7 linked regions of the Homo sapiens genome follow. The protein of the gene in region 6 purifies or fractionates together with the protein of the main gene of each other region. This does not show direct contact. Each region holds a gene or a part of one and is shown on either strand. Other genes may lie near its edges. The genes, in order: NAAA, GALNT18, TMED5, ARL8A, P4HTM, LIPG and ITIH2.

Region 1 (3,500 bases), on a different chromosome or scaffold from region 6:
GGAAGCTGTGATAGAGAGTGAAGGAGGAGGTGGGGTGGTTAGTACAGGTCAGAGGGTCAGAGAAGGCCTGACCCATGTGATCCGGGAGCTAGTTCTGCAGAAGCCAGGGGAAGACCATTTCTGGTGGTCTTACCGCAAGGATGAAGGCCGTAGGTAGTAATAATAAGCTTGGTGGATTTCAGAAGCCAAAGAAAGTCAGTGTGGTTATGGCATGGGAGTAAGTGGGTAGTGACATTAGAAGTGAAGAAGAGGCTGAGGCCATGGTGCAGGGCCACAATGAAGAGTTTGGTTTTTAAGCATAATGGAAGCTGTAGGGGGATTGTAGGCCAGGGAGTGAACAGATGTGATTTATATTTTTAACTATTACTTTTGCTGCTCTGTAGAGATTGGGTTGTTTTAGGTTAAGATGGAAGCAGAAGACCATTTGGAAACTACTGTGATAATCTAGGGGATATATGATGCTGTTATACAAGCCACATTTGTAAAGCACTTTCTGGTTTACCATGTACATCCTCACATGTCTTCTTCTTAGACCCTCACAACAGTCCTGTTAGGCAGGGCTGTTATTTTTAACTCCATTCGTTAGGCAGAGAAAGAAATAGGCTGTGAGATGAAATGACAGCTAGTAGTGGGAGAGGAAGTTCTCAGATTGCTCTCCTGGGTCCTGACCCAATTGCTCTGTTCATTGACATCCCCACTGCCATTCCCCAGATCTCAGGGGAACACCATTTAGTTCCACAGTATGTGGGAAATCTAGAAATAAGTGAGCTCTGTGTCTGTCCTCAGCGTGCAGCTGAATCAAGGAGAAGGATATATACAAGGAGTATCTTGAAGTTTAGTGTTGCTCGTCTGATGAACCCTGATTGACTTCATGGTGTTGTTTTTTTGGGGTTTTTGTTTTGTTTTGTTTGTTTGTTTTTGTTTTTTTGAGACAGTCTCGCCCTGTTGCCCAGGCTAGAGTGCAGTGGGCGATCTCAGCTTACTGCAACCTCTGCCTCCCGGGCTCAGCCGATTCTCATGCCTCAGCTTCCTGAGTAGCTGGGATTACAGGAGGTGCCACCACACCCGGCTAATTTTTGTATTTTTGGTAGAGATGGGTTTTCACCATGTTGGCCAGGCTGGTCTCGAACTCCGAACCTCAGGTGATCCACCCACCTCGGCCTCCCAAAGTGCTGGGATTACAGGCGTGAACCACCATGCCCGGCCAGTGTTATTGTTTATTCTTATCTTTTTACATAAGGCTTTACCAGGAAGATGGTGATTGAGTATATATCAGTGTCCACAGTAAGCAGTTCTTTATCCTAATGTATTTCTTCCACATTTTCTCATATGTCAGCTATGTATAGTACTGGTTCTCAACCTGTGGTACCCAAACCACAGCATGACAATTACTAAGGTTTTTAATAGAATGCCTATAATTACATGTATATTTATTAAAAATGACTGGCTTTCATTTTGCAACTCAAGTTGTTTACCAAACTTGATTAGTAGAATCTAAGGTATGAGCAGTTAAAAATAACCAAGTTAGTCTACAACATATGCATTTAATGAAATACTGTCAAACTGCTTTTAGCCAGGCATGGTGGCACCTGCCTGTAGTCCCAGCTACGTGGGAGGCTGAAATGGGAGGATGGCTTGGGCCCAGGAGTTACAGGCTGCAATGAGCTGTGATATTAAGTCTCTGGACATTATGGGGGGTGCCAGCAATGCCTCAAAGCCACCCTAGGAAAGGATAAAGATATGAGGAGGACTAATGAATGCCACAGGGCATGGGGAGGCTTAACAAAACACCTGGTGGGTAACACCTGAAGACTCCAGGGCCAGTCTGCCTGGGTTTAAATCTTATTGCTGTAGCTGGGTGACCACGATCAAGGAGTTTAACCTGTCGGTGCTTCAGTTTCCTCATCTCGAAAGCAGGGATGGGCCGGGCGCGGTGGATCATGCCTGTAATCCCAGCACTTTGGGAGGCCGAGGCGGGTGGATCACGAGGTCAGGAGATTGAGACCATCCTGGCTAACACAGTGAAACCCCGTCTCTACTAAAAAAAAAAAACACAAATTTAGCCGGGCGTGGTGGCGGGTGCCTGTAGTCCCAGCTAGGCGTGAGGCTGAGGCAGGAGAATGGTGTGAACCCGGGAGGTGGAGCTTGCAGTGAGCCGAGATCGCGCCACTGCACTCCAGCATGGGCGACAGAGCGAGACTCCATCTCAAAAAAAAAGAAAAAAAAAAAGCAGGGATGATAATAGCTGCTATGAGGATGAAATGAATTAACGAATATGAAATACAGCAGTCCCTGGCACAGAGCAAGGGCCACAGAAGTGTTTTTGTTGTTGTTGCATCTCCAGGCCTGGCCTCCTCTGAGTCCTAGACTGGAGCATCCAGCCATCTTCTCAGCATCTCCACTCTGACGTCTACTAGGCATCTTACACTTGCCTAAGCAGATCTCTTGCTTTTTTCTTTTCCCTATTTTCTACCCAACTCTGCCTCTACTCAAATCTGTCCCTCTCCTCGTTTCCCATGTCTCAGAAAATGGCACCTCTACCCAACCAATTGCTACCAGAAATCATCACTGACCCCTCACTCCCTAAGTCTTATCAGCTCTGACAGCAGAACTAGACTGTACCTGTCCATTCTACCTCCACTGCTGAGCTAGCCCCCATCACACCTGTACTGCCTGATTAGTCCACCTGATCTCCTTGCTACTATTTTTACTTTCTTATAATTCCTTCCCTACCCAGCAACTAGAATGGTCAGGTTGTTCCCCTGCTTAAAACCTACTGTGACAGATATTGCATGATTTCACTTATATGTGGAATCTCCAAGTTTGAACTCATAGAAGCAGAGAGTAGAATGGTGGTTGCTATGCACTGAGGAAAAAGGGAAATGGTCAAAGGGTACAAAGTTTCAATTAGACAGGAGGAATAAGGTCTGGTGATCCACACAGCAAGGTGAGTACAGTTAACAATCATGTATTATGTATTTCAAAATTGCTAGAGTGGGTTTTTAAAAATTAATTTTGTTATTGATACACATTACATGTGCATATTTTGGGAGCACATGTGATGTGTTACATTCATATAATCACATCAGAGAAATGCAAATCACATTTTTATTTCTCTTAATGATTAATGATATGGAGTATCTTTTCATGTGCTTACTGCCCATTTGTATATCTTCTTTGGAGAAATATCTATTCAAGTCCTTTGCCCATTTTTTTTTGTTTGTTTTGAGACAGAGTCTTTCTGTCTCAAATCACACATTCATAAATGCACGATCATGTGTGCACAATCTAATTGTGATATGTTACCTTAAATATTTGTCTTTTCTTTACACTAGAAACATTCAAATTCTAGCTATTTTTTTTGGCGGGGGGGGGGGGGGCATTAAAAATTTTTTTTTAATTTTTTTTTTTAGTAGAAACAAGGTCTCACTATATTACCCAGGCTGGTCTCAAACTCCTGAGCTCACGCAGTCCTCCTGCCTCGGCTTCTTCCCAAAGTG
Region 2 (3,500 bases), on a different chromosome or scaffold from region 6:
TCTGAATACCATGATTAATAATGTATTACATTATGTGACTAATTTCTAAATCCGTTATCTTACTTCATTGAGTCAAGATCATCCCAACAATGGAGAAATGGGTTATTAACTGCATTTTGTTTCCTGAAAGTTTGTTAGTCATATTATGTGCATATTAATGTATACCAGGTCAGTAACAGCAGGTTGTTCGCCATGACTACAAATCATTTATGGTTGCTAAGAATCAGCAGATGTCCTGAGCTTGGATGTTTTTCTGTCTCCTATAGCTTATGGATGTTACTTAGAATTGGCTCGTGTTCTTCTCATCTGAGCTTTGACTTGGCAGCGTTTGTGAAGAAGAGGATATGATGTTTGCTGAGTGCATGGAGTTTATTTGAGGAAAGAGTGTCATTTAAATAGTAAAGCTATTTGTCCTCTGGAATGAACTGTTGCATGTGAAATTATATTAGTAACAGTGATTGACATTTTGAGAGAGTTCAATAGCAGGACTTAGGAGTTGAGCCTAATTACCTTTGTTACTAGTTCAGAACCACAGCTTTATGAAGAAGAAAAGCCTTGCCAAAGGACACAACTTTTCCCCGTGACCAAAGAATCTTCATTTTTAGCCAGAAGTGTGTAGGCTGTAAAATAAATGAATTCCACATTCTTTCCCACTCACTTGACATAAATTGTTATTTTCCCTTGATAAGTAGGTTGGTGGAGAATCTCAAGGAGAATTCAGAATGAAAAGTGTCAGAGAGCCACGTCTGGTTTTGTCATTTATGAGGGCCTTGAAGTTCAGCTTTAGTCACTTGGGTTAGGCTGGCCTATGTTTTCCCAAAGGTATTTATGGGATTCAGAGTCACAAACAGGGTTACTGGAGCGTCTTCATTACCATCGTATAGGATTTCTGACCTCACTTCACTTGAATAGCTGAATGTGCTTGATATGCTTGAATGTTTGTACCCTCCAAATCTCATGTTGAAATGTGGTCCCCAGTGTTTGAGGTGGGGCCTAGTGGGAGGTGTTTGTATGAATGGCTTGGTGCTGTCTTCCTGGTAATGAATGAGTTCTTGCTGTATTTGTTCATTCAAGAGCTGGTTGTTTAAAGAGCCTTGCTGCTCCTCCTCCCTCCTCCTCCTCCTCCTCCTCCTCCTCCTCCTCTTCTTCTTCTTCTCCTCACTCTCTTGCCTCTCTCTCTCACCCCTCTCTCACTATGTGACATACCTGCTTCCCTGTTACCTTCTGCTGTGATTGTAAGCTTCCTGGAGTCTCCCCAGGAGCCTAGCAGATGCTGGACTTCGAACAGCTTGCAGAACTATGAGCCAAATTATAAATTTATAATTTTATAAATTACCAAGCCTCAGGTACTCCTTTATAGCAATGCAAAATGGACTAATACAAAGCTATTGTCTTGATTTGGGTCTTGAGGGTCTCCTTTGGTTTGTGGCAGAAAGCCAAGCTTGGCTTTTTGTTAGCTGGGTTCTATCTGGGAGATGGGGACAGACAGGCTGCCCTGTGGAGAAGCACATTGCCAAGCAGTACAGCTGGAGGTGATGTTACACAGAAAGTTCCTGGAGGGAAAACCCGGCTGAATGTGAGTGATAAATGTAACCAGAAGGCAGCATGGTGGGCTTTGGGGAGAGATGGAATTATGCATGAAGCGGAAGGGCAGAAGCCATACAAGTTGGATGACACTCAAGTCAGGAGCAAGAGGCAGAGTGACTGAGGTCCACTGGTGGCTAAGCCACCATCAATGAATGGTGGACCATGCTGTTTATGCTGGCCTGGAATGTCTCTTGAAGGGTGGAGCTTCTGCCTTGGATTTGGCAGGGATGTGGTCATTTCATGGCTCCTACAATTGTTATTGAATCTCACTTGCCTTTGGGGTTAGAGTCAGCTCCATCTGTAATGCAATGCTTGAGCCCAGGGGTCCTTGATGTTTCCCCCTTCCTCACACATAGGCCTACATACAAGGCATGTGCCCTAGGGCAGGGCTAGGAGGATGCACCTCCTAACACATTGCATTCATTCTTACTCCACCCTTTATTTTCCTACTTGAGAAGGCATATTAGTATGCAAGGGAATGTAACAACCTTGAAATCCCTTTAATTTATTAGAGTTAAAGCTAATCATTCATAAGCTTTGGTACTTAAATTATTGTTACTCACTAATTACCTCACAACTGCTCCACAGCACAGTATGTTGTGGCAGTGATTGGGAATGACTGCTGTTCTGGAATCTTCTCTGTGGATCTGTATACCTTTTATAGATCCCCTGTAGTTCCAGTGCAGCCAACTGGAACTTTAAGCAAGAGGATTCCTTGTTATATGAACACTTAAGCTTTGGTGGTTTTTCTGACTACACGATTATGGATTAAAATATGTTGCTAGACAGTTCGTCCCAGTGGGGATGCAGTACTGAGATGTAGTTCTCTTTCACTGCCTGACATTCAATTTCAGTTTTTGGAAGGTTTATTTTTGGGAGATGAAGCTGTCCTTAATGATGCTAGTGGAAACCCCTGAGTGTCCAGCCACCATAAACATTCAGTGGCTTCCCTTATGGAGCCACTGCTAAAATGGTTTTAGAACCAACAGGCATACTTTGCTGGGCTACTTTCCATTGCCACCATCCTTTAAGAGCTCACAGAAATACAGTGTTTGGGAAGATCCAGAGAAGTGGCATCTGCACTCTTCACCTTGGGACAGGTGAGAACAATGAAAAATGATGCCTACAAGGAGGCTTGTGGCCAGTTCTTTAGCGTGAATAGGTTCATTCTACAAATGCACTGAGTTTAAGTCTCAGAGCAGAGTTCCCTGATTAAGATTGTTGAGTGCTGCATCTTAACAAGCTCTGGTGCTTTGTTGGGCTTCGCCAGTCTGACTTGTGCATCCATCTCTGTCCCCTGGGAACTTGGAGTTAAAGGCCATTGAGATCCCAGAGGAGCAGGAAGGTAATTCAGGGACTCTGGCAAGACAGGATTCGAAGCTTGGCTTAATAAATGTTGTGCTAGCGGCATCTGGGGATTTAGGAGAACAGTACCAAAATTGCTTAGGCCAATGGATATGAGAGTTAGAAAGCTAAGGAGAGATTTGAAGCGACAAATGAGAATCCTAGCTAAACCCTTGATTTATTTTAAGAGCAACAGGCATATAGAGAATTAAAGATTGATTGTATCAAGGGAATGGAGGAAGAGAGCTACAGTATGCTAGCAGGTCAGGGACTGGCCCAGGTGCTGCCCAGGCATGATTACTTATTTATTTATTTCAATGAACAAATAAAATTGTAATTTTTAAAATTAGTGATTCCTTTTCATCTTCACAACATGGTAAGATTACCTTTTTTCTTACCTTTTTAGAGGTAAGAAAATGAAGACTTAGAGTTTGTTCAAGGTAGGTCACAGGGCTGATGGGTGGTAGAGCCAAGAAGGGAAACTGGCTACAAAACCAATGCTCTCTACAGAATAGGAAGGAGGATGAATGTTTCTCGTAGAGAGGAATGGGAGATCATCTTATCAAACA
Region 3 (3,500 bases), on a different chromosome or scaffold from region 6:
TTTTTTCTGTGCTTTGGTTAGTAAATTAGTATTCCCCTGGTATTCCATTCAATCTATCGTGGCATTTTAAACCTGCCTTCTGGCCAGCACAAGCTTTCTATTTTAACTTAAAGCTACTGTTCCAGGTATATGTCTTAAAGTTTCTTGAGCTGCTGGCTATATGCCATTTTTGTCCATAGTTTTCTTTCTTAAAACAGGACAGTATATCTTTGTGTGTACGTAAATTTTTTTTTTTTATTCAGACCTCATTCGTTTTAGGTAATTAGAAGGCCTGAAAGTAAAAGATCTGATCATAGGGAACTATATAAAAATAAAATACTTGTTATAACTCTTTGAGTTCAGAGTTCAGCAAAAGACCATATATTCTTCTTCTGACACCTCACTTCCCTCTTTTCATATCTCACTGGTATGTTTCCTGGTTCCATTCTATTATCTTACTATAACATTTTCTTAAGTCAGTTTTGTTATATGTTTAAACTGTGAGTCTGTAGGAAGAAGAGCAAATATGGAGTATCTAGTATTTGCTATAAACAAGGGTTGGCATGTTATAGGCTTCTAAATTAATCTTTCCATTACACTATGAGATAGAGTCTTTGACTCAAGATTCCCATTTTATAGACAAGGAGGCTCAGAGAAGTCAAATAAGTCTCCAGGGATACACATGCAGGGTGGAGACAGGATGGACCAAAACTCTTTGCTTTCTACCATATGCTTAGAACATCCCTGGTACATAACACTATTGTAAGAACTAGCTATTATTAAAATTATTGGTCTTTGTTAACCAAAATGCCTGATACATAATCGATACTCAGTAAACACTGAATACATGTATGAATGGATGAGAGGAAAAAAATGTCTCAACAATAATTTTTTAAGATACTCATTTAAAATGCATTTTAAATGGCATTTTACCTATGCAGAGCTCAGAAAAATATTTGCATAAGCTATTACTAAATAAGATAGAAATAGTAATTTTAAAAGTCAGTTTATATTGATATACTTGGAATTAACTGTTTTCTCTTTGATAGGTGTATAAGAAGTAAAAATGGGCCAGGCACTGCGGTTCACGCCTATAATCCCAGCACTTTCCGAGGCCAAGGTGGGTGGATCACGAGGTCAAGAAATTGAGACCATCCTGGCCAACATGGTGAAACCTTGTCTCTACTAAAAATACAAAAATTAGCTGGTCATGGTGGCACACGCCTGTAGTCCCAGCTACTTGGGAGGCTGAGGCAGAATTGCTTGAACCCCGGAGGCGGAGGTTGCAGTGAGCTGAGATGGCGCCGCTGTACTCCAGCCTGGCGACAGAGACTCCATCTCAAAAAAAAAAACAAAACTAAAAATGTAGTTCATCTTTTAAGTTTCAGAATTTTAAAAATGTTCAAAATGTATGTCAGTCTTTATTTCTCCCCAATTATTTGCTCCCTTTTTGAGATAATAAAATTCACTGTTAGAAAAATAAGTATCTTACTGCTTCCTTGTGTAGAATTACCTCTCATTAAATAATTGGGAGAAAATAATTGAGTTTATAATAGTTCACATTTATTGCATTCTTTTGATATGCCAGGCCAGTGTTCTCAGCACTTTTCATGTACTAATTTTTTTATTCTTAACCACAGTCCTATGACGTAAATATTATTTTACCAATGGGGAAACTGAGGCATAGAACAATTAAGTTGCTGAAGGTTACACAGCTAGTGAACGGCAAAGCCAGGATATACATTCAGGCAGTCCAACTCACTATTAATCACTATACCAGATTTACAAATTTTTTTTTTTTTTTTTTTTTTTGAGACGGAGTCTCACTCTGTTGCCCAGCTGGAGTGCAGTGGCGCGATCTCGGCTCACTGCAAGCTCCGCCTCCTGGGTTCACGCCATTCTCCTGCCTCGGCCTCCTGAGTAGCTGGGACTACAGGCGCCCGCCACCACGCCCGGCTAATTTTTTGTCTTTTTAGTAGAGACGGGGTTTCACCGTGTTAGCCAGGATGGTCTGGATCTCCTGACCTCGTGATCTGCCTGCCTCGGCCTCCCAAAGTGCTGGGATTATAGGCGTGAGCCACTGTGCCCGGCCTACAAATCTGTTTTTTAAACATTAAACAAAGCTTTTATCTTTAGCTATATTAATTTTGTAAGAGCAGCAAACATCTGAGTATGTCACTGGTTTTTCTTAAGTAGGCTTTTTCTTTTTCTTTTAAATGTAATTTCTTTTTTAAAGACAAGGTCTCACTATGTTGCCCAGGCCAGAGTGCAATGGTGTGACCATAGCTTACTGCAGCCTAAAGTACTGGGCTCAACCAAGCCTCCCGAGTAGCTAGGACTACAGGTGTGTACTCGGCTAATTTTTTAATTTTTGTAGAGACAAGGTCTCACTTTTGCCCAGGCTAATCTCGAACCCCTGGCCTACAGTAATCCTGCCTCAGACTCCCAAAGCGCTGTGATTGTAGGTATGAGCCACCGCACCTGGCCCTGCTTTTAACTTTCGCTAATATGGGAAACTAATTTTAACTAGGGTACTGGTAATTCAGATATTATTCATTTTTTTCTTCAGCACTTGGCATAATTAATGATGGGCTGAATTACCTTTATAGAATTAAATAATAAAATATAAACTAGTTTTATTTAATTCTCAAAAAAAGCATTTAGGATCAAACATAAACATCTATAAGGGAGCCAGTGGCAGTTAATAGGCAAAATCAGTAAGAGGCCTGGAAGAAGACATTTAGGACAATCCATCACTGCTTTTGAAAACAAAACTCAGTTTAATCTCAGTTGTAGGGTAGGTTGGCAGTCATATCTGCATATGAATTGAACTCATGATAAAATACTTTTAATAATGTATAAATATTAAAGTTTATTATGAGTTATGTATACAGGTTTTTAATTCTATCCTTTTCCAAAAATGAGGTCACTAACCATAATTTACTGAGTAAATGCCAAACATGTCTAAGTTGTACTTGAACATATATATTTTCAGGTTGCTTCTTTCCCAAGAAATTATAAATTATCTTTCAATACTAAGGAAATTTATGGGTAAGCTGTCCAATTACTATAAACTATGTTATTTGTTTTTTGTTTTGTTGGTTTCTTTTTTTTTTTTTTTTTTTTTGAGACAGGATCTTGCTCTGTTGCCCAGGCTGGAGTGCAGTGGCATGATCATGCCTCACTGCATCTTCAACCTTCCGGGCTCAAGCAATCCTCACACTCTGCTAATTTTTGTTATTTTTTTGTAGAGACAGGATTTTGCCATGTTACCCAGGCTGGTCTCAAACTCCTGAGCTAAAGTGATCTACCAGCCTTGCCCTCTCAAAATGCTGGGATTACAGGTGTGAGGCAACACACTCAGCCTGTTACTTCTTATTTTTACCTTTAGTTGCTTTTCATCACAAATAGAAATACAGGTAACTTAAAACATGTACTTTTTTTTATACAGTGTAGAGACTGAAGTTGGTGATTACATGTTCTGCTTTGACAATACATTCAGCACCATTTCTGAGAAGGTG
Region 4 (3,500 bases), on a different chromosome or scaffold from region 6:
CCTGGCCTCTGCCCCACTTCAGCTCGCTCCTCCCAGGGGCCTCCGTTGCCCTCCCCAACACACACACACACACACACACACACACACACAAAAACAGTCCTCTGCACCCCCCAAGCTTCTGGGCCCTCACCTTGATAGTCACATTCCCTTTGGTGATTTTGCGCATGTTGAAACCCACGGTGGGGATCATGTCCTCGTTGAACTGTCCTGACTGGAAAGAAGACTCAGAATGGGAAACAGTGCAAAAATCGATATGCCCCCACCGCAGACCAAGAGGCTGCGAGAACCATGCAGAGGCCAGGCCAGAGCTTCCTAGACTTCCCACTGTGGGGTACTCTTGCACATCCTGTGCTTTCAGGCAGGATGGGCTATCACCAACCTATGTGTCCCGCCTACACCTGGGGATGCCCTGTGAAAAGACCCGCTTTTGTCAGACAGTCTCAATCTCTTTGCCTAGACTAGGGGAAAATTCTTCCTCAAGTCTAACCTACATCTCTCTGTAGTAACTGACGCCACTTTCTCTCCAGTGGAGAGGAAGAAGAAATTACCTTCCAGCAAGAGAACTTGAAGCAAGTCATGTTCTAATAGTTAAGGAGGATCTCAAAGAAAGCAGATGAATTTTCAAACTAAAAAATCAAACTTTTTAGGGCAGAGTATATTGGTCATCCTGAAAATGCAGTGCATGCCAAGCAATTTCTGGATTATCCATGGTTCAGTTTATTTGTACTGTACTCCAGTTATTGGGAAGGATAACCTACACTCTATATCGTCTGCTTATTTATCTATGTGTCTCCTCACTAGAAAGAACACTTCCTGGGAGAGGACCCAGGTCTATAGTAACACCATTAGTAAATGTTTGCTGAATACTGGGGGTTTGACTGTAATTCCATTTTCCAAAATCCATTCTGTATTGTCTCTAGGATTTCTGGATTCTTCTAAACTACCTACAGTCTTCAAATAAGGCCAGACCCAACTCCCTCCCAGGTCATATCTCCATGTTCACAGGTAGGACACTTCTGCTTATCCCTTGGAAGCAGGCTAAAGAGATGGGGCTCGGCCGGGCGCGATGGCTCACACCTGTAATCCCAGCACTTTGGGAGGCTGAGGGGGCAGATCACGAGGTCAGGAGTTTGAGACCATCCTGATCAACATGGTGAAACCCCATCTCTACTAAAGATACAAAAAATTAGCCGGGTGTGGTGGCGTGTGCCTGTAATCCCAGCTACTTGGGAGGCTGAGGCAGGTGAATCGCTTGAACCCAGGAGGTGGAGGTTGCAGTGAGCCGAGATCATGCCATTGTACTCCAGCCTGGGTGACAGAGCAAGACTCCGGCTTGAGAAAAAAAAAAAGATGAGGCTCATTCAACATTGAACCTGAGGGTGATAGCCCTGTTCCTTTTTTTTTTTTTTTTTTTTTTTTTTTTTCTGAGACAGAGTCTCGCTCTATGGCCCAGGCTGGAGTGCAGTGATGTGATCTCAGCTCACTGCAGCCTCTGCCTCCTGGGCTCAAGCGAGGGTCTCCTGCCTCAGCCTCCCCAGTAGCTGAGACCACAGGCATGTGCCACCACACCCAGCTAATTTTTGTATTTTTAGTAGAGACAGGGTTTCACCACATTGGCCAGGATGGTCTTGAACTCCTGACCTCAAGTGATCTGCCTACCTGGGCCTCCCAAAGCGCTGGGATTATAGGGGTGAGCCACGGTGCCCGGCCAAGCCCTGTTCCTTTACCATGCCTTTTTCTCCCACCAGCTGGTAGGAATAATTTGCCTTGGGTTACATAAAGAGATCAGGGGCCCTGACCATTAGCCAAGATGTAGGAGATGATTGGCTCTTATTTGGTGCCTCCATGTCCACATGAAGACCCCTGATATCCCATCTGAATAGACTGCTTTGATTCCCTTTTTTTTTTTTGAGACGGAGTCTCACTCTCTCGCCCAGGCAGGAGTGCAGTGGTGTGATCTCGGCTCACTGTAGCCTCTGCCTCCTGGGTTCAAGCAGTTCTCCTGCCTCAGCCTCCCAAGTAGCTGGGACTACAGGCGCGTGCCACCATGCCTAGCTAATTTTTTTTTTTTTTTTTTGTATTTTTAGTAGATTCGGGGTTTCACCATGTTGGCCAGGATGGTTTCGATCTCCTGACCTCGTGATCCGCCCACCTCGGCCTCCCAAAGTGCTGGGATTACAGGCGTGAGCCACCGCGCCCAGCCCAATTCCCTTTTATCTGCAGGAACCACCTATTCATCAGGGCCTTAGGATGATATAAGAACTGAGTACCCAGGACTGACACCCAATGACAAGGTCCAGCAGCGGTTTCCAACCTGAGGTCCACAGTTGGGCTTCAGAGATCCCCTGAACCCCCTGAAACTGTACACAATCTGTGTGTGTGCAAAGTTTTGTTTGTGTGTACATTTTTCTGGAGAAAGGGTCTCTCACTTCTTTCAGATATCAAAAAGTTCTGAGAGCCCCCAAAGTTAGGAACCACTGAGGAAGAGGGAATGGCTTCTTCTAGCTAAGCAGGGAGAATTAAGTGTGCTGTAATTACCCAAACCCCGGCAGCCTGCTGCAGTCTACCCCATCCCCAACAATAGAGTCTGAGGAAGGAGGCCCAGTTCTTGTTTGTCTCTCATCCCAGGGGGTGCTTGGATAAGAAACTTGAACTTCTCTGGACCTCAGTGTTTCTGAATGTAAAACTGGGGAGAAGGGTTTCGGTCTCCTAGGAACTGTAAATAAGACTCACAACATGCTTGGAAATGGTTTCGATATAGCATGGGGAACCATCACTGCTCTTTGGCAACTAGAAGATCCACAGGCTACCAAGTAAATGAGAAGCCCAGCCTGGCAGAATGTGACCTTGGCAGAGGGGGATGCTGGGAGGACCTTCAAGGAGCCAGGCTCCCCGGCACCAGTAGGTCTTGTTCAGCTGTGAATCGGAGCTAAGGTGGAATCAGATTATGACTTAATTTCCCTGCTAATGCCTCCCTGTCTCATAGGCTCCTCATTTAAGGTTGGAAGTAACCTGAAGTCATGCAGCCCAACCTCTTGTCTCAGACTTCAGTCCCTTCTGCCCCATCCCCTCTTGGGTCAGTTCCAACTATCAGAAAGTTCTTTATATTGAGTTAACAATCCGGCCGGACATGGTGGCTCATACCTGTAATCCCAGCACTTTGGGAGGCTGAGGCAGGCAGATCACCTGAGGTCAGGGGTTCGAGACCAGCCTGGCCAACATGACGAAACCCCATCTCTACTAAAAATACAAAAATTAGCCAGGCATGGTGGTGTATGCCTGTAATCCCAGCTACTCGGGAGACTGAGGCAGGAGAATTGCTTGAGCCTGGGAGGCGGAGGTTGCAGTGAGCCGAGACTGTACCACTGCACTCCCAGCCTGGGTGATAGAGCAACACTCTGTCTCAAAAAAAAAAAAGAAAAAAGAAAAAAAAGAAAAAAAAATCTATCATTCCTAGAATGTCCACCCATTGTTCCTAAGTCCCCTTGGGCACTCCAAGA
Region 5 (3,500 bases), on a different chromosome or scaffold from region 6:
GTGGTGAGCCAAGATTGTGCCATTGCATCCAGCCTGGGTAACAAGAATGAAACTCCATCTCAAAAAAAAAAAAAAAAAATCTGAGCAACGACTTGTGGGAAGTATGGGATAAAGCCAGATGACTGTCAGGAAAGAGGGGTCCAGGAAGGAACTAATACTCACCCCATTACTACTACACTACTAACGACTACTATGAACAGACACATCTGAGGAGGCACTGTTTTCTCTCAGCAGCCTTCCTGGGATCTGTATATATCTAATTCATATTGATGTTAGGTTAAGTAAGCCATGAAGCCAAAGTCTCCCTAATAAACAGCTTGTCCTATAAAGCAGAGAATGAGCCGGGCTTGGTGGTTCATGCTTCTAATCCCAGCACTTTGGGAGGCTGAGGCGGGTGGATCACTTGAGGTCAGGAGTTCGAAACCAGCCTGACCAACATGGTGAAACCCCGTCTCTACTAAAAATACAAAAATTAGCTGGGCATGGTGGTGGATGCCTGTAATCCCAGCTATTCGGGAGGCTGAGGCAGGAGAATTGCTTGAACCCGGGAGGCAGAGGTTGCAGTGAGCCAAGATCGTGCCACTGTACTCCAGCCTGGGTGACAGTGAGACTCCATCACAAAAAAAAAAAAAAAAAAAAAGCATAGAATGAGAAACCCAGATCTAAAGTCACCAAGGGCAAATTATGAAAAGCAGAAGAGATTTGACAAAAGGTAAACTGGTTCTGGTTAAGCCATCAGATGGATCTCTGTTTCTGCAGATGAACTTCAAAAGGCATAACCAAGAGATTGCAATCAATGATTACAGGAAGTCCAGATGTGTGAGAGGGAAGAGGGTGGTCATGGTGGGGCAGTTCCTGAATACTGTGGTATTGGATGACTACAAAGAAGGATGCCTCATCCCCAGCAGGAGCAGTGTCTGTCTTCTGGGCCTGCCTGTCCCTCTGTCCATTGGTCTGCTACCCAGTTATTCTAAATGGGCAAGCAGGGCCCAAGAAGAGTGGACCTGCTATAGATTCTGCCCCCTCTGCCATGCTGTTCTTGGATCTAAACCTGTGACCTGCCAGCTTCAGGGACCCAAGATACCTGGGATCGAAGAGTGGATGCTAAAGATGTGAGCTGGGGCAAGGGAACTGGGGTCCACCCCAAGGTGCCTCCATCTCTGTAGAAGGGAACCCTAGCACTTCTCAAGGAAGACCCCGTGCAGCCCCCAGTCTCTCCTTGAGAAATATTTCCTGTTTCCCACCCTTGTTTCTAAAGACACTTGGCAACTGGGACCTGGGCCACAAAAGGCCCACGCTTGAGCTCCTGGCAAATACTTCCATGACTGGTAGGTCATTTTCCCTTGGTAGGGAAATAAAGGATTTGGAATATTGGGTGTCAGCTGAGGGCACCATCCTGTTCAGAACAGAAGTGCTCCATTTCTGAACCATTGCCACCTCTCTGGGGACATTGCTTTCTTACATGTGGCCCACTTCTCCCGCTGTCCTACCCCACCCCACACTGATTCTGTCATAGCAGATCAGATCTCATGGCTCTCTCTTTTTGTTTTGTTTTGTTTTGTTTTGTTTTTGTTTTGAGATGGAGTTTCACTTTTGTTGCCCCGGCTGGAGTGCAATGGTACCATCTCGGCTCACTGCAACCTCCGCCTCCCGGGTTCAAGTGATTCTCCTGCCTCAACCTTCCAAACAGCCGGAACTACAGGCACCCGCCACCACACCTGGCTAATTTTTTGTATTTTTAGTAGAGATGGGGTTTCACCATGTTGGCCAGGCTGGTCTCAAACTCCTGACCTCAGGTGACCCACCCACCTTGGCCTCCCAAAGTGCTGGGATTACAGACATGAGCCACCGTGCCCAGCCGCTCATCACTCTCTTAAATGTCTCCAACATTTTCCATTTCACTTCTAAGTCTCATTTGATGCCTAAAAGCCCTCTCGCCTCTTAGACTCATCTCCTGCCCCCACCCCCGACTCCATTTACTCCCTGCTGATCCTCAGACACCACAAGCTCACTACTGCCTCAGGGCCTTTGTATGTACTATTCCCTCACTAAAAGGCTTAGACCTGGCTCTTCCCACAGAGCGTGCCTTCAGCTCCAGCAGGCCTCTGCTCACACATCCCATCCTCAGAGACCTCTTGTCCTCAAACCCATCTTAAAAGGTTCCCAGGCACCCTGTTGCATCAGCCTGCTGGGTTTTGTTCTCAAATGCTTAGGACTGCTGGAAACTATTTTCCGTATTTATTTGTGTCATTTGTACCTCTGCCCACAAAGGTGAGCTGCATATGTAAGAGGACTGATTTGTCTCAGCTGTGTGTCCAATGGCCAGAGTTGTATCTCCTGCTGATTTTTTTTTTTCTTTTGAGATGGAGTCTCGCTCTGTTGCCCAGGCTGGAGTGCAGTGGTGTGATCTCGGCTCACTGCAACCTCCGCCTCCTGGGCTCAAGCCATTCTCCTCCTGCCTGAGCCTCCTGAGTAGCTGAAATTACAGGCGCCTGCCACCATGCCCAGCTAATTTTTGTATTTTTACCAGAGGCAGCGTTTCACCATGTTGGCCAGGCTGGTCTCGAACTCCTGACCTCAAGTAATCCGCCTGCCTCAGCCTCCCAAAGTGCTGGGATTACAGGCATAAGCCTCCGTGCCCAGCCTCCCGCTAATTCTTGGCTGGCTGGAGGAGTTCACTGGGTGCTCTCAGCCCAGTCCAGCATCTGCCTGCTGGCTTAGAGCATCCTCCACGTATCCTTCTGACTTGGCACCCTCTTCAAAGGCAGCAGGGGGTACTACCAGTGGCCAGCAAGAGTTTTAATCCATTTTTCTTAACAATTTGAGGTAAATGAGTAATTGCCACCAGTATACAAAACAATTTATTTTAAAATCATGACTGCTTTATCTTAGGATTTCTAAATGTATTCTTTTTCAGCTTAAGAAAACAATTAGGCAGCTACATCAGACCATAGTCCTCCTCATGACAAACACTGGAGGCCCAAAAGTAGAGAAACAATTTTAGTGTGCGTATCAGTTCAAGGTTGTTGTTTTGTTTTGTTTTGTTTTTTGAGACGGAATCTCGCTCTATGGCCAGGCTGGAGTGCAGTGTGGTGCGATCTTGGCCCACTGCAACCTCCGCCTCCCGGGTTCAAGCAATTCTCCTGCCTCAGCCTCCCATGTAGCTGGGACTACAGGTGCGTACCATCTCGACTCACTGCAACCTCCGCTTCCTGGGTTCAAGTGATTCTCCTGCCTTAGCGTTCCGAATAGCTGGAAATACAGGCACCCGCCACCACGCCCAGCTAATTTTTGTATTTTTAGTAGAGATGGGGTTTCACCATGTTGGCTAGGATGGTCTCAATCTCTTGACCTCGTGATCCGCCTGCCTCAGCCTCCCGAAGTGCTGGGATTACAGGTGTGAGCCACTGCGCCTGGCTAGTTCGAGTTTTTAAGGAATTTAGCTCAGGCTGCTGCATTGCCACACACACCCCTGCTCTTTCATAGGCCTGCTGCTTGGC
Region 6 (3,314 bases):
AGTAGCTGGGATTACAGAGATGCGTCACCATGTCTGGCTAATTTTTGTATTTTTAGTAGAGATGGGGTTTCGCCATGTTGGCCAGGCTGGTCAGGCTGGGTTCGAACTCCTGGCCTCAAGTGATCCGCCTGCCTCAGCCTCTGAAAGTTCTGAGATTATAGGTGTGAGCCACCGTGCCTGGCCAATTCTTAAAGTTTGAAAGAATATAGCTGCCCCAACCTAGAGTCTGACAAAAAGTTACTCTAATATAAGGCATATTCTTTATTTGACACTCATCGTTAGCAGAAGTGGACAGCAATTCACTAAAGAACCAGAACAAGAACATCATTTCACTGAAGACGAGAAGAAAAATTATTTCAATTGTAGCAGCTTGAAGGCCTGAAGGTGGATGTTAGGAAGAACAGGGAGCATGGCTGGACACTGGGGAGCATTAGTGAGATTATTAGGTTTGGTTGAATTGGAACTAGATATCAGTGACTTAGACCAGAGGGAAGCTGATTTCTCTATTGGTTAAAGTCCCAGCTGGTAGTAAGGTTCTATTCTACAGGCCAAGAGGGCTGCAGGTTCTTAGTTTTTCACTGTGCCATTCATGGGGTATTCCTCGCATCCCCACAGCCCAGGGGTCCCCTACCAGCCAATGGAAAGCCAGAAAAGGGAAGGGATGAACAGTCTCCTCTTAAAGACATGACTGAGAAGTTGCTTACATTCTATTGGCCAGAAATAAATCCATGGTCACATGACAGGCTGGGAAATACAGTCTTTATTTAGGGTGCCCATGGGCCCTGCTGAAGATCCAATTACTATTTATTTAAAATTGACATATAATAATTGTACATATTTGTGGGGAAAATAGTGATGTTTCGATACATACAAGGTATAGTGATCATGTTGGAATAATTAGCATACCCATCCTTTCAAACATGTATCATTTCTTTGTGTTGGGAACATTCAATATCCTCCTTCTAGTTACTTGAAACCATATTTTATTAACTCTAGTTTTACCCTTCAGTGGTATAGGACACTAGAATTTATTCCTCCTGTCTAGCTGTAATCTTGTTTGTTTCGTTTGGTGTTTTTTGTTTTTTTGTTTTTTTTTGAGATGGAGTCTTGCTCTGTAGCCCAGGCTGGAGTGCAGGGGCATGATCTTGGCCCACTGCAACCTCCGCCTCCTGGGTTCAAGTGATTCTCCTGCCTCAGCCTCCCAAGTAGCTGGGATTACAGGCATGCACCACCACACCCAGCTAATTTTTGTATTTTTAGTAGAGACAAGGTTTCACCATGTTGGCCAGGCTGGTCTTGAACTCCTGACCTCAAGTGATCCACCTACCTCAGCCTTCCAAACTGTCGGGATTACCGGTGTGAGCCACCGGGCCCAGCCACTAGCTGTAATTTTGTATCTTTTAACAATTCCGTCCCTATTTCCCCTTTCCCCCTACCAATTACTATTTATTAAAAGGGAAATTGGATCTTGCCATCCGTTTATCAGGAATTAGTTTTTTCTCTGCTAAAGCCAGCGAGATAGACCAGAGTACCCTTTAAATGATTAAATCCTGTAGTCAATTTTTAGTAATCTTAAATTGATCTATGACTATGAAGTATAATGCATTACATCAGTTTGACTTTATTTCTGGTCTTAAGTGTGAAAACATTTCTAAATGACAAGGAAGCTCTTTATAAAGGGCTTTAGTGATGGTGGAAACTCCACTGTCCATCTCTACCAGGACATTCTGAAACCAGGCTTGATAATGGCTGTAGGGAGTTGGGTTAGACAATAAGAGATAAGTTCTTAACTTGGTTCAGATGTCAGAGGAAAGCAGAAAATGGTGTCTCTGGCATAGTAAAGAAAATTGTTGAAATTTCCCAAAGGAAGAGTCATAGCCTGGATGACTGCAAGTGCCTTCTTTGGCTTGGGGGTTCAGTTACTAGTTAGAGTCAGGGGAACTTCCACAGGACTTCCTTTGACTCTCCAAACAAGCTGAAGCCCCAGACCCCTTGGAAGGATGGATACAAAGTAGGTACTAGAACAGTCTTTGTCATCAAATATGGTATTTCTCAGGTGTCACCTCTGTGTTCAGAGCTACCCTGAGCCCTCTGCCATGTAAGCTCTCTGATGGCACAGATTTTTATCTGGCTTGTTTTCTGCCGTTATCTTAGAAGCTAGAATAGTGTCTGGAACATCATGGGTATTCAATGAATATTTAAATAAATAGATGAAATTAGATATAAGAAACTAGGTGCTTAAACAGGCAGGAGGTAATCTGGGAAAAGAGCAGTTAGTTTGGAATCAGAATTCTTGGTGTGTCATCCAGCATTATGTGAGTTTTAGGCTAAATACAGCCTTTCTGAGTCTCTATCTGCTCATTTAAGAAACAGAGACAATACTGCTCAGGGTTGTTGTGAATGTTAAAGGTACATGGTAAAAAAGAAAGTATTTGTGTTTTGTAAACATTTGAATTGATAAGAGGACAGTGTGAGACAAAAATAAAATCCTGGGTGGGCACGGTGGCTCACCCCTGTAATCTCAGCACTTTGGGAGGCTGAGATGGGAGGATCACGAGGTCAGGAGTGCGAGACCAGCCTGGCCAATATGGTGAAACCACGTCTCTGCTAAAAATACAAAAATTAGCTGGGCGTGGTGGCACGTGCCTGTAGTCCCAGCTACGCCGGAGGCTGAGGCAGAAGAATCGCTCGAACCTGGGAGATGGAGTTTGCAGTGAGCTGAGATCACGCCACTGCACTCCAGCCTAGGCAACTGAGTGAGACTCCATCTCAAAATAAAATAAAATAGAATAGAATAAAATAAAATCCTTTCCACATATATGCGGAAATTTTATGTATGATAAAAGGGGCCTATTAGTCTTTGGGAAAGGAATGGATGGATGATGAGAAAGTAGGCTCATTTGACAAAGAGAAACAAAATTAGATTCCTATTTTAACACGCAACAAAGATGAATTCCAAAATACCTATTGGGTACTATGCTTATTACCTGAGTGACGAAATAATCTGTACAGCAAACTCCTGTGACACACCATTTAACTACATAACAAACCTGCATACGTACCCCTGAAACTAAAGTAGAAGTTAAAACCATCAACCCCCCCAAAACAAAAATGAATTCCATCTGAATAAAAGGTATAAATGTGAAAGTCATCATGCTAATAGATATTATGAAATATAAATTCAAAACCTGTATAAAAACTGAAAAAATGTAAAACGTCACAATTAGAATAAGAAAATTTAAATAGAACAATGAATATTAAATAAACTAAAATGCTAATAAAATGTACTCCTTAGGGCCAGGTGCGGTGGCTCA
Region 7 (3,500 bases), on a different chromosome or scaffold from region 6:
AACACCCGACTTCTTGGATCTATTATTAACAGCTCACCAAACATTACATGTTCACCCACCACCCTTAAGCCATTCACTTTCAAAGGCAAGGGAATCGCCTTTGTTCATTTCCTCAGGACAGTCAAGTGTATGGATAATCTCCTAGCATGGTGGTTAAAAGCATAGAATTTTCTAGGTGCCAGTCACTGTGTTTGCCTCAGGGGTTACACTGTGGAGGAAATACATGAAAATCCCTGCTTTTATGTAGCTTAGTTTAAAGGAAGAGACAGACTTTAGTCAAATAATCCCTCAAATAGAATGAATCATTATGAAACAAGGTGAGCACTCTGCAGGAAGGAATATGCTGCTGCAAAAACACTTAGTAAAGGAAACCGACCTAGTCTTGGGGTGTTAGAGATTTTCACTGGAGGAATTCTGCTGGAGCTGAGATCTGAAGGGTGAGTAGGAGTTCTCCATATGGGGGTTGAGGAACCTAGCAGGGGCACTGCAAACAGTGGGAACAGCATGCCCACAGCCTCATGGCCGAATGGAGGATCAAAGTCTCCATTCAACTGAGTAAAAAATAGAGCAAATAGCATCAAGGGGATATACGCTACCCAGGATGCATTTGGTTGAATATTTTTATTTAAAAATTACTTGTTCTAGCATTATATCCAAGAATGACACACACGCCACCAGAACTGGTTGAGAAACTTATTGAGAAACTCACCAGTGGGAAAATAGTTTTCAAGAATATTCAATATTTATGTCTCAACTCCAGTGAATGAATAACAGCTCAGTATTGAAGAAAAATAAAATTTCTTTTTTGACTGAGAAAACGGTTTTGGCTCTCAAGGTAATAAGTGACATACAGTTGAAGAATGATTGTCTAACTTCCTTTCACAGAGAAGCCTTCCAGGAGAATCGGAAGAAATGATGGTAAGTTGACTTGATGTTGTTACAGATTGAATGATTTTCCTGTTAATAATTACCAGGAAATCAATCTGGGTGTCTCTTTTTTCTTCATCACCGAGTATTTACCTGACTTTCGAAATACTGCCTTGCCCAACTGTTTGCAAGTGTTTCTAAAATTCAGCATTGAAGAGTGCAGTCTTTACAGACAGGAGAGAGGCCACCAAGAGCTGAAGGGGCCCTTCTCTTCATTTTCTTGAGTTTTGCCATATATCATAGGTTCCTTCCCACTGTATAAATTTATGTATTTATTCCTACTCAACCTTTTTGATTTATGTATTTATTTTTACGTTTTCATTTTTATTTTTATTTTTTTGAGACAGAGTTTCACTTTTGTTGCCCAGGCTGGAGTGCAATGGCATGATCTCAGCTCACTGCAACCTCTGCCCCCTGGGTTCAAGAGATTCTCTGCCTCAGCCTCTCAAGTAGCTGGGATTACAGGCATATGTCTCCTCGCCCAGCTAATTTTTGTGTTTTTAGTAGAGATGGGGTTTCACCATGTTGGCCAGGCTGGTCTCGAACTCCTGACCTCGGGTGATCCACCTCCCTCAGCCTCCCAAAGTGCTGGGATTACAGGCATGAGCCATTGCTTCCAGCACCATTTTGATTTAAAGTATGACACCTGACAGCTTTGGAAAATAAAAGAGTGCCCGTGGAAAGGAACTTTTAAACACAAAACGGCCCAGTTCCCTGAGATGTTCAGAGTAGACCATCCTGTGGCAAGAAAACAGCCTGAGGACAAGTGGCTTATGTTGTGCTTCCTGCCCTGAATTGGCAGAAACTGCCAGAAGTGCACACTTCAGGGGGAGGAAGGACACATAGATTAGCCTGGATTTTATTTTAGCTTGAGGTGAGTTGCATGGTTAATTAGTCGAAAGGTTTAATGTTGGACTACAAAGTTTGGGGAATGAGACCTGGTATTGAGATAAGTAAATTCTTTTGGAGAAAAAAGCAAAATCTAATGGGTCTCATAGTTGTCCATAGACCTGAAGGAGCTTGCAGCTCTCAGTCACCTCCTGAAAGGTGTGGGTTTCTAGGACCTTGCCTTTGAGCACACTTACATATGTGATTCTTCACACAGGAGCTGCTTTAAATCAGTAGTGATCGGGTAAGGAGGTCCAGAGTGTTGGACCAATACTTGCATCAGAATGCCCTGTCCAAGATCAATGTCTCTTGCTTACACCCGTCACTGTTCTCCTAGCTTGTTTTGACTTGGGGGAGGAGAAAAGGACTGCAGATGAAATTGTAATAGAGGAGATTAAAGAAGGTAGAGAGCTGTAAGGGGGGGTTGGTGGAGGCCATATGTGTGTTTCCACCCCACAGCACCCCTGTGTGACCCCTACTAAAGATACAACCAAGTTCCTCTTTCAACCTCGCAATCCAGTATCCTCTCCCCAGCTGATGGTCTTGCATTTGGAGTTATTACCTGGACTTCCTCAATCCAATCTGGCTTCCCACACCGTTTTCTACTTGTATTCTAATTTTTGAAAAATCATTATTTATAGACTCATAGGGCTGAAAAATGCCTTTTAGCTCAAAGTATCTTGAAACCAAGGCAGACTTCTGCTCATTGCGGGTTCCAAGAAGTTAGGAGAATGCTTAACCATACATGAATTCTGTCCTTACCAAGGCCCTGGAATTGTTCTGCTAGTAAAACAAGTAAAATGTAGTGTTGTTAACATCAAATGCACTACATTTGATGAAGTTCTGTGTGATTTTTCTATCAGTACAGTTATGCTTTCTTGCCAATTTCAGGAAGAGGTTGATCAAGTAACTCTTTATAGCTATAAAGTCCAGTCTACTATTACTTCTCGGATGGCCACCACCATGATCCAGAGCAAAGTGGTGAACAATTCCCCGCAGCCTCAGAATGTCGTGTTTGATGTTCAGATCCCCAAAGGAGCATTCATTTCCAACTTCTCCATGTGAGTAACTTCTGTGTAGAGCCAGAAATTGTAGGTGCTCTACTCACAGAATCAAAACCCCTCATAGTTAGAATGGACTTTAGTGGTCAACTGTCCCAGAGGACCGGCTGGATGTCAAGGGTCATTGTGAGGTTGGTCCCAATAATTTTCTCCTCTTCAAAGCGTTAGAACTTGTGAATTATTTGCTTTTTGTTTCTAATAAGCTAAAGCAAACTTAAGGCTATCTCTGTGGTAACAACCTCATACTTACTTGCATTTTAATATACTTTCTAGGGAGGAGAAAAATATACTGGGTTGCCCTGGCTTATAGGAAACCACATAAGAGCGTGTGCACAGCAGGTCAATGCCATCTGCCATATGTTTCTCTATGGGAAAAAAAAAACAAGTTGAGAACCACAGATTAAATCTAATTACTTATCCAGTGCTTGACCTCCTCTATAACACCGCTGACAAGTGTGTGATGATTTCCTTGATGATAAACTCACTTTTCCCAAGGCAATCAACTCAGTGATTGACAGCTCTGTTAAGAGTCCTTTCTTATACTTCAAATATTTTCCACTTTCTACCCAATGACTCTAGTGATAATCACATAGAATTTTTAAAAAGCTCTCTACAAAATACATA

What was found.
Region 1: the proteins of LIPG (region 6) and NAAA purify together in Homo sapiens (affinity purification with mass spectrometry; one large-scale study listed by BioGRID and IntAct). This does not show direct contact.
Region 2: the proteins of LIPG (region 6) and GALNT18 purify together in Homo sapiens (affinity purification with mass spectrometry; one large-scale study listed by BioGRID and IntAct). This does not show direct contact.
Region 3: the proteins of LIPG (region 6) and TMED5 purify together in Homo sapiens (affinity purification with mass spectrometry; 2 studies listed by BioGRID and IntAct, with this or other methods). This does not show direct contact.
Region 4: the proteins of LIPG (region 6) and ARL8A purify together in Homo sapiens (affinity purification with mass spectrometry; one large-scale study listed by BioGRID and IntAct). This does not show direct contact.
Region 5: the proteins of LIPG (region 6) and P4HTM purify together in Homo sapiens (affinity purification with mass spectrometry; one large-scale study listed by BioGRID and IntAct). This does not show direct contact.
Region 7: the proteins of LIPG (region 6) and ITIH2 purify together in Homo sapiens (affinity purification with mass spectrometry; one large-scale study listed by BioGRID and IntAct). This does not show direct contact.

What each region holds. Positions count from the first base shown.
Region 1 is NC_000004.12:75,927,514-75,931,013, reverse strand, and holds part of NAAA (N-acylethanolamine-hydrolyzing acid amidase isoform 1 precursor), read left to right. Parts: intron 1-3,500.
Region 2 is NC_000011.10:11,612,006-11,615,505, reverse strand, and holds part of GALNT18 (polypeptide N-acetylgalactosaminyltransferase 18), read left to right. Parts: intron 1-3,500. UniProt on the Homo sapiens protein: Catalyzes the initial reaction in O-linked oligosaccharide biosynthesis, the transfer of an N-acetyl-D-galactosamine (GalNAc) residue from UDP-GalNAc to a serine or threonine residue on the protein receptor.
Region 3 is NC_000001.11:93,156,414-93,159,913, reverse strand, and holds part of TMED5 (transmembrane emp24 domain-containing protein 5 isoform 1 precursor), read left to right. Parts: intron 1-1,028; coding exon of another isoform or gene 1,029-1,099; intron 1,100-3,430; coding exon 3,431-3,500. UniProt on the Homo sapiens protein: Potential role in vesicular protein trafficking, mainly in the early secretory pathway. Required for the maintenance of the Golgi apparatus; involved in protein exchange between Golgi stacks during assembly.
Region 4 is NC_000001.11:202,138,238-202,141,737, forward strand, and holds part of ARL8A (ADP-ribosylation factor-like protein 8A), read right to left. Parts: intron 212-3,500; coding exon 131-211; intron 1-130. UniProt on the Homo sapiens protein: Plays a role in lysosome motility. In neurons, mediates the anterograde axonal long-range transport of presynaptic lysosome-related vesicles required for presynaptic biogenesis and synaptic function. May play a role in chromosome segregation.
Region 5 is NC_000003.12:48,993,241-48,996,740, forward strand, and holds part of P4HTM (transmembrane prolyl 4-hydroxylase), read left to right. Parts: intron 1-3,344; exon of another isoform or gene 3,345-3,500. UniProt on the Homo sapiens protein: Catalyzes the post-translational formation of 4-hydroxyproline in hypoxia-inducible factor (HIF) alpha proteins. Hydroxylates HIF1A at 'Pro-402' and 'Pro-564'.
Region 6 is NC_000018.10:49,593,057-49,596,370, forward strand, and holds part of LIPG (endothelial lipase isoform 1 precursor), read left to right. Parts: 3' UTR 1-3,314. UniProt on the Homo sapiens protein: Exerts both phospholipase and triglyceride lipase activities. More active as a phospholipase than a triglyceride lipase.
Region 7 is NC_000010.11:7,706,316-7,709,815, forward strand, and holds part of ITIH2 (inter-alpha-trypsin inhibitor heavy chain H2 precursor), read left to right. Parts: intron 1-885; coding exon 886-918; intron 919-2,706; coding exon 2,707-2,876; intron 2,877-3,500. UniProt on the Homo sapiens protein: May act as a carrier of hyaluronan in serum or as a binding protein between hyaluronan and other matrix protein, including those on cell surfaces in tissues to regulate the localization, synthesis and degradation of hyaluronan which are essential to cells undergoing biological processes.